Linked DNA regions of Homo sapiens: region 1 is linked to region 2. The links come from fine-mapping of genetic effects on gene expression. A gene starts in region 2. The other region holds a variant in brackets. All regions are shown on one strand. Distances are between the middles of the regions.

The links. PIP is the estimated chance that this variant, and not a neighbour inherited with it, causes the effect. A credible set is the group of variants that fine-mapping cannot tell apart.
Region 1: its variant is the best candidate, but not a certain one, in a credible set for the expression of LINC02733 in monocytes after R848 (Quach 2016, PIP 0.55).

The regions. Positions count from the first base shown.
Region 1 is chr11:62,002,545-62,005,459 of GRCh38, forward strand. No RefSeq gene overlaps it. Among named protein-coding and RNA genes, the nearest start is that of FTH1, 36 kb to the left of the region's middle. The variant G/A (reference allele first, on the strand shown) is at 1,624.
Region 2 is chr11:62,080,733-62,083,647 of GRCh38, forward strand. It overlaps LINC02733 (long intergenic non-protein coding RNA 2733), which reads right to left and starts at 1,590. Exons shown (of 3, transcript NR_183616.1): 1 at 882-1,590.

The sequences.
Region 1 (2,915 bases), 78 kb before region 2:
CCAACGCTCCATGTAAATGTGTATACACTTTATGCAGACAGGAAAGATTTCCTGCTTCCATGAGCATCCCCGCGAGTAACCAGATGAGAGGGATAACAATCCAAGAGATTTTCCAGAGTGCTCCCTGGACCTCCAGATTCCGGCATTTTCGATGCCCCTCAGGACTTCCATATTCGCTGTTCTCTCTGCCCGGATGCTCTTCCCTTAATCTCTCCTGGGCTGGCCTCTTCTCAGAATGGAGGGCTCAGCTGGAGAGTCAGCTCCTAGCAGCCTTCCCTGACCCCTCCGCAAAGGAGTTCATCTCCCCAAGACTCAGTCCCTCTCTATGCCATTACTGGTTTTGCTTTCTTGTAGTTAACACTATTTCCGTGGAATATACTGACCCTTTCCAGCCTCCACTGACTATAGTGTGAACTTTCTGAGAGTCATTGGGCCTTACTGTCATCATCACTGCCGTATCCCAGTACCTAGAAGGGTGTCTGGCACCTGGGGATGTTCAGTCATTATCTATTGGATGGGTGGATGGTACTTGGGTTTGGATGGAGTGAGGAAGAAGATGACTTGGAGAGACAAGTTGAGCCAAGAGGACGAGTTGGCCTTTTCTTTCTTCAGCTTTCCTCTTCACATATGCCCCTGAGGGGAGATCGCTGGAGAAAGAGGCAGCCCACTGTCCCTGTCCCTGGAAACACCTTCACCAACAATGGGCTGATATTCTCCCTACGCTGGGCCAGGCAGATGGAGTCTCCTTCAGCCGAGATGTTTCTGGGGCAGAAGATGCACCTCTGCCACCATCCTTTACTTAAACCGGAAGACTCCCAGCCCCTGTGAACAAGTCCGTCGGAAGTTCTCTGTCTGCATGGGGCTAGAACCCAGGGAACCCCAGGCTGGAAAAAGTGGGTGGGCCCACATGGCTTGCAGAACTTTAAAAGTAAGTGACACAGGTGGGAACAGGCTGAAGGAGCTAGGTTTCTGTTTTTTTTGTTTTGTTTTGTTTTGTTTGAGATAGTCTCGCTCTTGTCATACAGGCTGGAGTGCAGTGGCGCGATCTTGGCTCACTGCAACCTCTGCTTCCCGGGATCAAGCAATTCTCTTGCCTCAGCCTCCCAAGTAGCTGGGATTACATGTGCCTGCCACCCTACCCAGCTAATTTTTTGTATTTTTAGTAGAGATGGGGTTTCACCATGTTGGCCAGGGTGGTCTCGAACTCCTGACCTCAGGTGATCCACCTGCCTCGGCCTCCCAAAGTGCTGGGATTACAGGCGCGAGCCACTGCGCCTCGCCTTCTTTTTTTTTTTTTTGGATGGAGTCTTGCTCTTGTCGCCCAGGCTGGAGTGCAGTGGAGCAATTTCGGCTCACTGCAACCTCCACCTTCCGGGTTCAAGCTATTCTCCTGCCTCAGCCTCCTGCGTAGCTGTGATTACAGGTGCCTGCCACCACGCCCAGCTAATTTTTGTATTTTTAGTAGAGACGGGGTTTCACCATGTTGGCCAGGCTGGTCTCGAACTCCTGACCTCAGGTGATCCACCCTCCTCAGCCTCCCAAAGTGCTGGGATTACAGGTGTGAGCCACCGTGACCTGCCAGGGTACAAATTTTCTTTTTTTTTTTTTTTTAGACGGAGTCTC[G/A]CTCTGTCGCCCAGGCTGGAGTGCAGTGGCACGATCTCGGCTCACTGCAACCTCTGCCCCTCCAGGTTTAAGCAATTCTCTGCCTCAGCCTCTGGAGTAGCTGGGATTACAGGCATGCGCCACCACGCCTGGATAATTTTTTTGTATTTTTAGTAGAGACGGGGTTTCACCATCTTGGCCAGGCTGGTCTTGAACTCCTGACCTCGTGATCCACCCGCCTTGGCCTCCCAAAGTGCTGGGATTACAGGCGTGTGCCACTGCGCCTGGCCATGGATACATATTTTCTAACTCATTCTCCTGGTTTCAGCGTTTTGTGTTTTTGGGTGTTAGGCTTGCTAGAATTGTAACCTTTGCCTTCCTGGAACAGAAAGCTCCAACTTTGTGTGTAATTTTACTGAAGTGGACCCACTCCTCAGAAAACAAAAAGAGAAAAACCCCAGGGGAATTAGGATACACACATATTGCAAAAGCCTCTGTGGTCAAGTGTGCGGGATTTCCAGAGGAAATGAAAGTCAGGACCAGCAAGAATATCAGACCAGCTGGCCAGAGCCCACCTCCATGGCTAGTCTTGCCCTGCAGCCAAGAACAAGCTTACTTCCTCTGAGTCAGCTCATAAGCCCTCCTTGGACCACAACCCTGGGCTGCATGTCAGTGCCACTGCCATGGTGGGTCCCCTGAGAGTCTAGGAGGCCTTAGAAAGATTCCGAGGCCTGGCCATGCATGGATTTTGCTCTTAAAAAATGTCTCTCAGCTGGGCGCAGTGGCTCACACCTGTAATCCCAGCACTTTGGGAGGCCAAGGCAGGCAGATCACAAGGCCAGGAGATCGAGACCAGCCTGGCGAACGTGGTGAAACCCTATCTCTACTAAAAATACAAAAATTAGCTGGGCATGGTGGTAGCATGTGCCTGTAGTCCCAGCCACTCGGGAGGTTGAGGCAGGAGAATCGCTTGAACCTGGGAAGCGGAGGTTACAGTGAGCCGAGATCGTGCCACTGCACTCCAGCCTGGCAACAGAGCGAGACTCCGTCTCAAAACAAACAAACAAAAAAATGTCTCTCTCCTCTCTTTCAAATGAGCAGCTGCCCGAGAACCCACAGGAATGGATGGAAGGATAGAAAAAGGCAGAAAAGACACCCGCGGGACACTTTGGAAGCCAGTGCCATCTCTCTGTTCTCTAACAGTGCTAAGAAAGGATGGGCCTGTGGGTAATCATTCTGATCAAAAGCCAAGGCAGCAGCTGGACTGTGCCTCCAAACTGTTCTGGAGGAAGAAAATATGCAAAGAAAGATGT
Region 2 (2,915 bases):
TGCTGGTAAGTAGAATATGAATACGGTGTTATTTTAAGACATGGAAGTAAATCCCAAAGGAATTGACTAAAATATTTCAAGTTTTGATCTGGGGAGCAGGATAGAAGAGGGACTTGAACTACTGATTCTTAGATTATGTGCATGTACATCTTTGATGAAAAAGAAAGCAAAACCAGACAAAATTATATGCATTGATTCGAGAAAGTAGTCACAATATAATGTTAAGTTAAATAACAGGATATAAAAGGTATATTCAGTATAGTCTCATTTTGTACATTAAATTGGAGGAGCTGATAGAAAAAATAAGAAGAAAATATTTCTAAGTGAAAAGATTAAGCATATATATATATTTTTTTGAGACACAATCGTGCTCTGTTGCCCAGGCTGGAGTGCAGTGGCATAATCATAGCTCATTATAACCTCAAACTCCTGGACTCAAGCGATTCTCCCACCTCAGCCTCCCCAGTAGCTAGGACTGTAGGCACATACCACCACACCTGACTAATTTTTTAATTTTTTGTAGAGGAGGGAGTCTCACTATGTTACCCAGGCTGGTCTGGAACTCCTGGTCTCAATCGGTCCTCCCGCTTTGGCCTCCCTAAGTGCTGGGATTGCAGGCGTGAGCCACTGCGCCTCTTCAGAACTAGGTGTAATTTAATTTTCTTCTTTATATTTTCTTAGATTTTCTAATTTTTATTTTCAAATTAACATTTATTAATTTGTAGCTAGAAAGGAAAACTTCTACAGATTGTAGAGACCAGGTTTTGCCATGTAGCCCAGGCTAGTCTTGCACTTCTGAGCTCAAGCCATCTGCTCACCTGTGCCTGTGGCTGCCAGCTCTGCAAAACCCTTCCTGAGATCAAGAAGGGGAAGCAACTTACCCAGGTTCACTCAGGCAGGTTTTGTGAATCCAAAACCATTGCTCTTTTATAGCTTCCTGTTTCTCCACTTGGGATTTCTTCCAGCTGAAAGCTTACTCATTATATGAAGGCTCAGAGCTCCCAGGTCAATGTCATCTTCTTCATGGAGCTGTGCCTGGAGATGACGCCCCCTTTCTCTGCTCCATTAAACCCGGTGTCTTTCCTGCTGTGTGTGCCAGCGGCTGTGTTGTGGTTGTGGGTGTGCTTGCTTTCGAGTCTTCGTTCTGCTATAAGCCCCTTGGAAGTAAGGACCACACCTTAGGTATTTCCATCTCTCCTTATGCAGCATCCAGGTGCATCACTCACGTGCAGGAGGGATTGGCTGAACACAGAGGCAGGTTAACTCAAGAATAAACTTTATTATTTGCTTTTAGGTGCTGTAGTGTGACGTGAAGCAGGTAGCTCATAATTGTGAAGATAAACTTGTGGAGTAGGTGGGTTTTGAGGTCCAGTAGGAAGATAGGCCCCACACAATGGTAGTTTGATTATTAATCAGCGTGGAGCAGGTGAATCAGCTGTTGCATTCCCCGGGAAGAACGCGGGCTCGGCCGGCCTGTGCTGGACTCTGGCGCCCCCAAATGGTCACGTGGGTTTATTACACATCGGAAGTAAACAGCTTTTACTGATGATGAAGTAGTGACTGTCTTGGTAGCTCTCTAGAAGCTCATTCGCCTTCTCTTTAAAGTTACACTTCACAGAGGCAGGATAATCCATCCGGTCAAGGAGAAAGGAAAATCGGATTAGGGCTTCCAATAAACCTGTAATATTTTAGGTGTACCGCTGAGTCATAAATATCAGCTAAGTCTGTTGTATCATCACCTGTACTTCTTTTTGCGCATCTTAAAATACCATTTAAAATAACGAAAAAAATCTACAACTTAGCTCTAGAGTATCATGCCTCCAAAAGACACTGGGTTTAATTTTTAGATGTTTTCCCTTTTTCGTTGGAGGTAAAAATAAAATTCAGGATTATGTTTTTCAGACCTATGTTTGTTTTCATACTTGTAAAACCTACATATGTATCCATAAACACACAGAGTATTGATTTGTGTTTCAATTTTAAAAAATTGATGTCACACTGTACCATTCTGAAGGTCTTTTTTGTTTGTTTGTTTGTTTTTTGAGATGGAGTCTCGCTCTGTTACCCAGGCTGGCGTGCAGTGGCGTGATCTTGGCTTACCGCAACCTCTGCCTCCCAGGTTCAAGCGATTCTCCTTCCTCAGCCTCCTGAGTAGCTGGGACTACAGGTGCGTGCCACCACATCTGGCGAATTTTTGTATTTTTAGTAGAAATGGGGTTTCACCATGTTGGCCCTGGCTGGTCTTGAACTCCCAACCTCAAGTAATCTGCCCACCTTGGCCTCCCAAAGTTCTGAGATGATAGGCACGAGCCACCACACCTGGCCATATCTTGCTTTTATTGATCAACATTGTGTTTAAGAATTATTCATGTTGGTACATATATTTCTAGTTGATTCACGTTTACCGCTGAAAAATTCCTCGTATAACTATGCACGTATATATATGTGTGTGTGTGTGTGTGTATCTATATATATATATATATATTTTTTTTTTTTTTTGAGACACAGGTTGTACTGTTGCCCAGGCTGGAATGCAATGGCACAATCTCTGCTCACTGCAACCTCCACCTCCCAGGTTCAAGCGATTCTCCTGCCTCAGCCTCCCGAGTAGCTGGGATTACAGGTGCCTGCCACCATGCCTGGCTAATTTTTTGTATTTTTACTAGAGATGGGGTTTCGCCATCTCTCACTTAACTAAGGTGATCTGCCCGTCGAAGTGCTGGGATTACAGGGGTGAGCCACTGCGCCTGGACTTTTTTTTTTAAATTCATTAAAATAATAGAAAAATAGAGACAGGGTCTTTGTGTTGCCCAGGCTGGTCTCAAATAGCTGAGCTCAAGCAGTCCTCCAGCCTTGGCCTCCCAAAGTGCTGGGATTACAGGTGTGAGCCACTGTGCCTGGTCTTTATGATATCT